Linked DNA regions of Homo sapiens. The protein of the gene in region 1 interacts with the protein of each later gene in a pairwise test. Each region holds a gene or a part of one and is shown in the gene's direction. Other genes may lie near its edges.

Region 1 (3,644 bases):
AAGTAAAAGAAGAGAAAATGGAAGAAAGGGACCTGCTGTCCGACTTACAGGACATCAGCGACAGCGAGAGGAAGACCAGCTCGGCCGAGTCCTCGTCAGGTACCTGGAACCGCCTGGCCAAGGCCTTGACCACTGCTGCCCAGGAAGGCCCAGGTTCACCCTCTGCTCTGCTGTCTTTCTACAGCGGAATCAGGCTCAGGTTCTGAGGAAGAAGAGGAGGAGGAGGAAGAGGAGGAGGAGGAAGGGAGCACCAGTGAAGAATCAGAGGAGGAGGAGGAGGAAGAGGAAGAGGAGGAGGAGGAGACCGGCAGCAACTCTGAGGAGGCATCAGAGCAGTCTGCCGGTGAGGCACCGCGACGACTATGTGAGGTGTTGTGACTTCACTATAGTGTTAGAAACCGCAGAGAAGTAGCTGGCGGGCGGGGGAGTTGAAACTCCCTTCTATCTAGGACTCTCTCGGGACACCTCCACATCGATTCTTTTTGTTTGTTTTTTTGAGATGGAATCTTGATCTGTTGCCCAGGCTGGAGTGCAGTGGCATGATCTCGGCTCACTGCAACCTCTGCCTCCCGGGTTCAAGTGATCCTCCCGCCTCAGCCTCCCAAGTAGCTGGGAGTACAGGTGTGCGCCAGCACGCCCGGATAATTTTTTTATTTTTAGTCGAGACGGGGTTTCACCACGTTGGCCAGGATGGTCTCGAACTCCTGACCTCAGGTGATCCACCCGCCTTGGCCTCCCAAAGCGCTGGGATTACAGGCGTGAGCCACCGCGCCCGGCCTGCATATCCATTCTTGGGAACACTTGTTGCTTAGCTGAAGCGGAGCCCGCATCCTGCCTGTGGCAGCACTCGCCCCGGTGCTGGTCTGAGCAGACGCCTCCTTTCTCTTGCAGAAGAAGTAAGTGAGGAAGAAATGAGTGAAGATGAAGAACGAGAAAATGAAAACCACCTCTTGGTTGGTAAGAACCTCCCTGGAGACAGAGCCCCCTCCTTGTCTGTCTCCGAGTGCAGCAGCCCTCTCCTAAGACAGCCGGTCCTGCGCAGCGTGGGGCACGCCAGGGTCTGGGAGGCCGCCTGATTCGTTGGCCGCTCCAGGCTGTGCCGGTGGGGCCCGCATTCCTCAGCGAGGCACAGTGCTGACCAAGGGCGTCCTGAGTGCCCAGCAGGGCCGAGGAGCTGGGAAGCCCAGGACCAGTTCCCCACAGGGGAGGCCCGTCAGATGGTGGCTCCGGGCCTGTCCCTGCAGAGCAGAGGCCTGGCCCAGCCTCCGACAGGCAGTGAGGTTATGTCCTCAGCCTGGTGGACGTGGATGTGGGCTTGTCCCCCACATGACACCCGACGCCTCCTCCCAGCTCAGCATCCGGGCTCTGTCTCAGCCGAGCCTGCCAGCACTCTTAGGCCTCGGTGCCCTGTGTCCAGGGGACGAGAGCCCAGCGCCAGCACCTCCCAGCGGGACACGGGGCAGCCCTGCCACGCGCTTGATGCCCCCGGGGCAGGAGGAGGTTCATGATCCTTGCTTACTCCTAGCTTCGTAATTAGGTTCAACTTTTCCAGTTCCAGAGTCACGGTTCGACCGAGATTCCGGGGAGAGTGAAGAAGCAGAGGAAGAAGTGGGTGAGGGAACGCCGCAGAGCAGCGCCCTGACAGAGGGCGACTATGTGCCCGACTCCCCTGCCCTGTCGCCCATCGAGCTCAAGCAGGAGCTGCCCAAGTACCTGCCGGCCCTGCAGGTCAGGCCCTCCCCTCGCCCCGGGCCACTGTCCGCATTGGCAGTCGGAGTTACCACAGGGGCTGAGCGAAGCCTGGCCCCCGTGTTGGCGTCTGTCGCCTCACAGGGCTGCTGGGCCCACTGGGGCAGTGACGGGCGGGCACAGCCACTGGCCCCTCATGCTTCTAGGTCCCGCCTCTTTCTCATGCTGGACGGAACTGGGTGGACAGGGAGCTGCCCGCAGGACTGCTCTGCGGCTTGAAAGGCAGCCTGGGCGTGCGGCCGCGCTGCTGTCACTGCTGCCCGAGTTGCGTCCTCCTCCGCACTGGAGAGCAGTGCCTTCCACTTGACCCCTGCGTGGGCGGGTTATGTAGGCACCAAGGCCTTGTTACCGGCATCTGTGCAGGGCTTGGATGGGGGAGCGGCTACGGGAGTCAGTGTAGATGTGTGACCAGAAGCCTTTTGCTTAGGCAGCTATCAATAAGGCAGGATATTGTTGGGAGCGATTTGGAAGGGACAAGCCTGAGAAGGTGCCAGTGGCCTCTGGGGCCTGGGAGACCGGCAGGGACTCGGCCCCCTCCTTGGTGCCTGTGGGCGGAGAGGTTCTCTCTGGCGCATGCAGCAGGCCTCTGTCGACTGCCCTATGCCTTGTGAGCGCCTCTGCCCCTTAGTGCTGCTGAGCGTAGGCGTCGGGCCACAGGCCACCCCGAGTACATGACATCCGGCCTGGGCACCGGCCCCAAGGTACACGGAGGGGTAGGTGCCCTGGCATGGGGCATCATGCTGCGCCTGGCAGGTAGGGCCCGTCCTCAGTGTCATCCTGGTACAAGCAGGGGACACATCCAGTTTGACAAAGAGACTCTTGGGATGGCTTTTTTTTTGGAGACTGGGTCTGTCTCTGTCACCCAGGCCGGAGTGGAGTGGCTTAATCATAGCTCACTGGAGCCTCCCCCTCCCAGGCTCAAACAATCCTCCCATTTCAGCCTCCTGAGTAGCTGGAACTACAGGCGCAAGCCACCATGCCTGGCTAATTTTTTTATTTTGTAGAAAGGAGTTTTGACCGGGCACAGTGGCTCACACCTGTAATCCCAGCACTTTTGGAGGCCGAGGCGGTGGGCGGATCAGAGGTCAGGAGTTCGAGACCAGCCTGGCCAATATGGTGAAATCCTGTCTCTACTAAAAATACAAAAATTAGCCTGGCGTGGTGGTGCGTACCTATACTCCCAGCTACTAGGGAGGCTGAGGCAGGAGAATCGCCTGAACCCAGGAGGTGGAGGTTGCAGTGAGCCGAGATCTCACCATTGCACTCCAGCCTGGGTGACAGAGCGAGACTCCGTCTCAAAAAAAAAAAAAAAAAAAAATAGAAAACAGAGTGTTGCTATGTTGGCCGGGCTGGTCTTGAACTCCTGGGCTCAAGCAGTCCTCCTGCCTTGCCCTCCCAAAGTGCTGGAATTACAGGCCTGAGCCCTTGCACCTGGCTGGGATGGCCTTTTGTTCACACTGGTTTTGTTTCATAATAAAGTGTCAGATGGTTTTGCAAGGAAAGAGACTTTGAAAGAACTGAGCTGCTCCCGGCTCCACCCCCGGCCCAGTCCCAAGGCTCTGCCCTGCACCTGCCCCGTGCCGGGTGTGCCGTGCCTGTGGACGCAGCCGCCCTCCCTCCAGCTGGCATGGCCACTGAGACCTCACACAGGCGCTTCCTTCCCAGGGCTGCCGGAGCGTCGAGGAGTTCCAGTGCCTGAACAGGATCGAGGAGGGCACCTATGGAGTGGTCTACAGAGCAAAAGACAAGAAAACAGGTGGGTGGGGTCCCCTCACCCCACAAAGGCAGGGGAAGTGGGGCAGGGGCTGGCTGCCCGAGAGCTGCGACTGCACCTGGGCCCGCCTCACCTGAGCAGCTACTGGAGGTTGGACCCCTCAGCACCTCTAGAAGCCAGA
Region 2 (3,644 bases), on another chromosome or scaffold:
ATGGAGTCCAGCTCAAAACCAGGCCTGTCTGACTCCAGGGTCCATACTCTTAGTCTCTTTCTTCCTCCCTCCTTCCCTCCCTACCTCCCCAGTTGTCCACTCAAGTAATGGTAATGGTAGTGCCATACATTTGAGCTGGATCGTGATTCAAGTGTTGAGTCAGAGACACATGGAAGCACAGGCCTGGGCAGTGGGGCCTGGTTCCCAGGAAGCACATACCTGGGAGATACCGCTGAGGTTCACTGGGAGGGAGAGGCCCCTACGGGAGCAGGCCCGTTCTCAAGGCCTGGCCCCATCTCCTGCTGAGCTTCTTACCTTCTCTGTTCTGCTGCCTTGAACCTGCCCATTCCATCCTGCCCCAGCCTTCCCATGTGTTATCCTTCTGTCCAGAATGCTCCCCACCCCACTCATCCTTCAGACCCGAGCTTCACTGTTTAACACCCTCAGTCAGGCCTCTCCTGATCCCAGATGAAGGAGATAGCATTTGTCACAACTAATTAAGTATGGTATGTCTCCCCTGCTGACCTCTAGCTCCCTGAGGGTAGGTAGCTCTGTTTCCCTCTTGCCCACTACCATCTCCCTAGCATCTTGCACATAGTAGCTGCTCAATAAATATTTTTCTCCTGCATGATCACACGGGATCCCAGGAGGGAGACCGCCCCTAGTAGGAGAGGGAAGACAAGAGGACACAGAGTGGGAAGGTGAAAGTGAGAGTCTCCAGCCCCTATCTATCACAGAGCCATCCATCCCCAAGCCACCAGCCCCTGACTCTGCTTAACCCTTCCTCCTCCCCTGGGCGCCTTTGGAAGCCGACCATCTGGCTTGGAGGCTATTTGCATATTGTCTGTGCCTCAGCAAGCCTAGCAAGATGTCCCTGGGGGTGTGTTTCAGGCCAGGCCGAGTGGCCCTTGCATCCTGCGAAGGGAGCCATGAGTTCCCCCTCTCCCCACCCCCAAATCCAGGCATGGGGGAACAATACGAGTGGCGATGCGGTAGCCTCACCATGGTAACAGGCTATCAAAAATGTGGGCAGGCCTGGGTGGGGGGCGGGCAGAAGAGGGAGGGAGTGACCTCAGCAAATAGGAGCATCATGATAAATGAGCCCGCACTGGGCAGCAGACTCATCCCCCAGCTTGTCCCTCTGGGACTCCATGCTGGTGCCATCGTTTGGATGACTCCACCATGACCACTAGCCCTTCCCCCACCCCCAGGCCTATCCAGAGTGGAGCAGAAGCACCTTCCCTTTGGAGGGAGTCAGGGCTGTCCCCTAATTGAGTCCTGGTTCCATGCAGGCCAGGCACTGCCCAGACCTTCTCGCCGCCTCCACACACACAGGCACACCCCCGCCCGCTAGGGCTGGCTGATGGATGTGTCAGACCCCGGTGGCTCTATCGAGCAGCCACAAGATGTATGGGTTGGCGGCCCACCAGACAGTACCAAGATGGAGGCCAAGGGGATTCAGAGCCAAGGGGAAACCTCTGAAACCCAGACCTCAGGGAGGAACCCAGCCAGGAGTCCAAGTGAGCTGCAGCTAGTTGGAGGCAGCATTTTCCCCATCCCATGCCTGCTCCAGGGACCGTGAAGACTCTGATCTGCTTTGTTTAAAAGGAGACATTAAAATGGAAAGGCGGCAGTCTCAGTCCATGGACACTTTGCCCGTGGCCCTGTGCTTTGCTGGCGTACGATCCAGGCAAGTTGGCACCAAGCAAAGTGGACCATCCAGGCTGCAGGCCTGTCAGAGCGAGGGGGCACGCGTGCCAGCCAGCGTGCCTTAACTCCCTGCCCAAGGCTGGGGCCGTGTGTGCGTGCCACACTGTGGGCCCAGACAGGGCAGAGCAAAGTCTCCCTGAGTCCTAGCCACCTTTCCCTTGCGTACACTCTGGACTCCAGGCAGGAAAATCAAGGCCTCACCTGGGACTTCTCCAGCTTAGCCCTGAGCTTTGTCTCAGGCATTAGTCCAGGACAGCAGACCCCTCTGGACGCTGACTCGGGATGGGGTGCTTAACCCCAACCTGTCTGCTGGCTTCCCAGAGGCGAGTTGTCTCCCTGGGACCTTTATCCTCAAGTCGTCTAAGAGAATGAGAAGGAACTCCTCAGCCTCAGGAGAATGGCCCTGTTTCGGGGGCGGACAGTTGAGGACCATAGGCTTCGAGGTGTTTATAGAGCCACATTTCTGTGTGCTGTGGCCCGATACTGCTGCCCCTAGGAAAGGACAGGTGACCCTGAAGACAGGTGGCTCTGAGCCTCCACATGACATACAAGGAGGCTGGTGGCTCCCCCAGAACCACAAGGAGGCAGATCTCAGTGTTAGCTGAGCTGGAGAGGCCCTGTCACCCGAACCTCTGGCCACCGCTGGCGCGGAGGGCTCTGGAAGCACAGGGTGGTGGCAGGGGAGTGGAGCAGGGATTTGTCAGCATCCCTAGCTGGTGAATGATCCTTCTCTCCCTCTGCCAGAGGAAATTAACTGATGTTATCAGCTCAGCAATTGTTTTTTTCCCCTCACAAAGGGAAATATATGCAGACCCCTCCAAGAGCAAAGCCGAATCCTCCCCATCTGCGACTGGCTGGAGAGATAAAGGTGGAGGGGGCTCTTCAAGGTCCTCTCAGAAGTCCAGCCATGGCAGTTGGAGACTGGCTTCCAGGACTTGTGGGTAGGGGCCTGTCTCCTAACCCTTTAGATGCGACAGTCCTCCCGCCGTCTGCCTTGAATCCCCCCACTATAGGTAAATCCCATTGCCTCTTCTCCAGGACTTCAGCAGTGCCAGGTGCAGCTTTCTCTGAAGATCCACCTGGCAAGTCACTGGCCTGTCCTAACCTGTTTCCTCACCTTTGGAATCTACAAGTTCATGGGCTATCACAGCCTGGTCTAAAAGAAGCCCTCTAAACACCGTGTGTATTTCCTTGTGGGCCAGGCAAGGCTCTGGGGGTGGGCAGGTGCTATTTGGGTTTGACAAGAGTTTGTTCTGTGCATTCCTTTCCAGGGGACATCCGGAACCTGCTCATCTGGATCAAGAAGAATTTGCTAAAAGAGCGGCCAGAGTTGTTCATCCAGGGAGACAGCGTGTGAGTCCCACTCCTCCCTTCCCTGAAGCAGGTGGAGGGAGGGACGGATATTTGAGCCCCCACCCTCGGGTTCAGTCCTGGCCTTCTCTGAATCCGGTTCTCCCCTTCCTCCTCCCTAACTCTTCCAGCTCTGAGATCTGTTTTCAGTTTTCTTGTTACTAAACCGAACTCTTGAGGATTTTTTAAATCCCAGATGAAAGGAGCCTGGTGAATTTCTCAGAAAACTTGGATTCTGCCCTCTGGTTGCCACAGACTTGCTGTGGGACCTTAGGCGACTTACTTCGCTTCTCTGGGCCTCAGTTACTCTCTACACAGAAAGTGCTGAGGAAAAAACGTAGCTAGTACAACTGAAGAGCTAAATATTCTGTTTTATTTCATTGTAATTTAAATAGCCACATGCAGCTAGTAGATTACCATACAGTGCAGCACGGGTCTAGAATTCCAAGGAGTCATTGACTCTGTGCGTGCACACACCCATGCACATGCACACACACTCACTGGGGACACCCCATAGAAGCCCAGTGCAGTCTCCTTGGAAAGGACCAGGTTCCAGTTGCCACGAAGTTACTTCTAAAACAAGG
Region 3 (3,644 bases), on another chromosome or scaffold:
CACTGTCAGTTCCAGGCACTGTGGGCTGCCTGGGGTGGCCTGGCTCTTCTAGCACCACAGGGAACGTGCGGGTGTCCACGCCGAGCGCGTCAAGGGGCTAAATCCACCCCCAACACCGCGGACCCCCACGCCACAGAGCTGCCCAGGGCACCTCCGGCTCACCGGGCTCACCAGCGCCCCCTGGGGGATGCTGCTGGACAACAGCGCCCTATGGCCGGCGGGTCTGGAATGTGCCCTGCGTGGCTGCCCTCAGCAGTCCAGGCCCCGCCCTGGGGCTCTGTCTCCCCAAAGCCCCCTCCGGACACAGCGAGGCCTCCGCTCCCCTCCCTGGGACCCCATGAGGCGTGAGGGTCTGAGCTGTGGGACCCCGAGCACTTGGTGTGTTTCTCAGCGCGATTTCTTCTTTGGCTCAGCGCTGTTGATGGTGTCTGTTGTGTCTTTAGGACACGCGTGTAAAGTGTATGGGAACCCTCAGGTGCTGTTTAAACACAGCATCCGCCTTGGGGTCTGGGAATCACCCAGCGGCACCTCCGTGCCTGGCTCCAAGCCTGGCCACTTGGCACCCACCGCGTTGGGTGCGTATCCTGGGCTTGTTCTCGAGGGGTGGGGGTGCTGTCCACGTGCGCACACATCACAGCACTGTGGTCTGGCCGCTGCTGAAGGGCACTGGATTGTTTGGGGTTTGGTGACTACGAGCAGAACAGTGGTAAACATTTGCGTTTATGTGTGAGCCTCTGTTTTCATTTCTCTTGAGCAAGGACCCAGGAACGGGACTGCTGGGCCACCTTTGGCTGTGATGAGAAGCTGTCCACAGTGGCTCTGCCGCGTTGCTCGGCCGGGTGTGGACGAGGCCCCCACCCCGCGGCCTGCTCAGCTCGAGGTGCCGGCAGTTTATTTGATTGTCTGAGCCCCCTGGAGAGTGTGCAGGGGCCTCGCTGTGGTTTCCATCTGCACTTCCCTGACGGCGCCCACGCGGCCCCCTCTCCGTGTGCTTGTCCGCACTTCCCTGACGGCGCCCACGCGGCCCCCTCTCTGTGTGCTTGTCGGTACTTCCCTGACGAGGCCCACGCGGACCCCTCTCCAGTGTGCTTGTCCGCACTTCCCTGACGGCGCCCACACGGCCCCCTCTCTGTGTGCTTGTCGGTACTTCCCTGACGGCGCCCACGCGGACCCCTCTCCGTGTGCTTGTCCGCACTTCCCTGACGGCGCCCACACGGCCCCCTCTCTGTGTGCTTGTCGGTACTTCCCTGACGGCGCCCACGCGGACCCCTCTCCGTGTGCTTGTCGGTACTTCCCTGACGGGGCCCACGCGGACCCCTCTCCGTGTGCTTGTCGGTACTTCCCTGATGGGGCCCACGCGGACCCCTCTCCAGTGTGCTTGTCGGTACTTCCCTGACGGCGCCCACACGGCCCCCTCTCTGTGTGCTTGTCGGTACTTCCCTGACGGCGCCCACACGGCCCCCTCTCTGTGTGCTTGTCCGCACTTCCCTGACGGCGCCCACACGGCCCCCTCTCTGTGTGCTTGTCGGTACTTCCCTGACGGCGCCCACACGGCCCCCTCTCTGTGTGCTTGTCGGTACTTCCCTGACGGCGCCCACGCGGACCCCTCTCCGTGTGCTTGTCTGTACTTCCCTGATGGGGCCCACGCGGACCCCTCTCCGTGTGCTTGTCTGCATGCACGTGTCTTCTCTGGTGGTGTCTGCTTCAAATATTCTGCCCGTCTTTTCACATGGATTTTTTTTCTTACTGCTGAGTTTTAAGGTTCCTTTGTGTATCTCAGAGACAAGTCCTTTCTCAGGCATGTCTCCTAGTCTGTGGCTTGTCTTCTCATTCCCTTAACGGTGTCTTCTGAGAGCAGAGTTTCGAACGTTTTGATGAAGTCTAGTTCATCCATTTTTTCCACTATAGGCCATGTTTTGTTGCCATTTCTAAGAAATCTTCGCCTAACCCCAGGTCACAGAGATCTTCTCTTTGGTGTTCTTCTAGAAGTTTTAGTTTCATAATTAGGACCGTCATCTATTTTGAGTTAGTTTTGTATATAGTGTGCAGTATAGACCAAAGTGCATTTTAATTTGCACAGGGATCACCAGTTGCTCCAGCTCCACTTGTGGAAGAAACAGTCCTTTCTCTCTGGCTTGCCTCTGCACCTGTAGACATCGGGGGGGCAGCATGCATGTGGCTGAGCCAGACTCCCCCTGGGCTGCGGGGCTGGCCGCGTGCCCGTGCCCACGTCGCTGCCACTTTGCAGTCAAGCCTCGATGAGCTTTGGAGTTGGGTAGTCAGTCTTCTGACTCTGTTCTCATTTCTTGAAATCGTTTTGGCTATTCTAGGCCCTCTGCTCACTGACTTCTGGAAAGGCTTGCTGGGGTTTTATGGGTCATTTGTCCCCTGACTCTTGGTCACTGTGGATTCTGCAGCTGGGAGTGCCCTCGGAATGCTTGGCCTGCTGGGTGCAGCCTTTCTCGCGCTGTCCAGAGGCTTCCCTGGTGAAATGCAGGTGCCTTTTGCAGAGCTGAGCCTCATCCACAGGATCTCTTGTTTTAAACACTGAAAAACCCCACTTTGGGTTAGTTGTGGTAGATCTGGTCAGAGGAGAAAAATGTTTTCTAATTAGAATTATTATATAAAAACCAAGAGTCAGTTTAGAACCCTCTAAAATTGCCTGAATGGCCTGTGGTGGGAGGATGTTGTAAGGCGTGGACTGTGTTTAGATGTGGCGTGTTGTGTGACCAGAAGCTTCTCATGGCACCTCCGGCCCACCGGGCTCTGCACCTCTGAGGCCAGAGCAGTGCAAGGGCACAGCGGGGCCGCCTGGCGGGTTTTGGAGCCAGGGCATCTGAGGCGTGGGCCTGCGCCCATGCTGCCAAGTGTCCGGGGGCGGCAGCCCCTCCTAACCATGTTCCTGTGTGGGGGACACCTCCACCTAGGACCCCAACACACACAGGCAGAGCCGGGGCCCCAGCAGGTCCTAGGACCCCCAGCTCCCGGCGCAGCTGGGCGGGGCTGTGGTGGCCCCGGGAGGAGGAGGTGGGCTCCGCTGCCTAATGGCCTCCGGCACTGCCCCAGCAGAGTGCAGACCCGCACACACCCTGTGTCAGAGCGGCCTGCAGGGCCGTGTGAGCATCCAGCTTTATAGAGGACCTGCTTCCGCCAAGCTTTCTTCCAAGACAGTTTGGATTTGCAGTGCTACCAGGGCGGCCGCCTGTGGGTGAAGCCTGTGGGCTGCTGGGCCATGGCTGTCCAGCTCTGCTCAGACCCACGCGTGGGGAGGGCAGCCCTGGGCCGGCCCGCGCCCAGCCCTAAGTCGCCTGTGCCCCTGTAGAGGGAAGTCTTGCCGGACCATCACCTTTGAGCAGTTCCAGGAGGCGCTGGAGGAGCTCGCCAAGAAGCGATTCAAAGACAAGAGCAGCGAGGAGGCCGTTCGCGAGGTGCACAGGCTCATCGAGGGCAAGGCGCCCATCATCTCAGGGGTGACGGTGAGCAGGGCGGGGATGGAAGGCGGGGCCTGGAGGGGGTGGGGGCGGGGCCTGGAAGGTGGGTGGTGCCTGGGGGAGGGGTGGTCAGGAGGGACATGGATTGGGGGCGTGACCTGGGGGGGGTCCTGGGAGGCGTGGTCAGGAGGGCGTGGCCTGGTGTGGGGTCTG

The links.
Region 2: the proteins of CDK11B (region 1) and URM1 interact in a two-hybrid assay, tested with the Homo sapiens proteins (one large-scale study listed by IntAct).
Region 3: the proteins of CDK11B (region 1) and TPPP interact in a two-hybrid assay, tested with the Homo sapiens proteins (one large-scale study listed by BioGRID and IntAct).

What each region holds. Positions count from the first base shown.
Region 1 is NC_000001.11:1,638,361-1,642,004, reverse strand, and holds part of CDK11B (cyclin-dependent kinase 11B), read left to right. Parts: intron 1-3; coding exon 4-99; intron 100-184; coding exon 185-343; intron 344-891; coding exon 892-957; intron 958-1,552; coding exon 1,553-1,728; intron 1,729-3,414; coding exon 3,415-3,505; intron 3,506-3,644. UniProt on the Homo sapiens protein: Plays multiple roles in cell cycle progression, cytokinesis and apoptosis. Involved in pre-mRNA splicing in a kinase activity-dependent manner. Isoform 7 may act as a negative regulator of normal cell cycle progression.
Region 2 is NC_000009.12:128,384,835-128,388,478, forward strand, and holds part of URM1 (ubiquitin-related modifier 1), read left to right. Parts: intron 1-2,981; coding exon 2,982-3,063; coding exon of another isoform or gene 3,064-3,067; exon of another isoform or gene 3,068-3,644. UniProt on the Homo sapiens protein: Acts as a sulfur carrier required for 2-thiolation of mcm(5)S(2)U at tRNA wobble positions of cytosolic tRNA(Lys), tRNA(Glu) and tRNA(Gln). Serves as sulfur donor in tRNA 2-thiolation reaction by being thiocarboxylated (-COSH) at its C-terminus by MOCS3.
Region 3 is NC_000005.10:665,802-669,445, reverse strand, and holds part of TPPP (tubulin polymerization-promoting protein), read left to right. Parts: exon of another isoform or gene 1-2,582; intron 2,583-3,322; coding exon 3,323-3,476; exon of another isoform or gene 3,477-3,505; intron 3,506-3,644.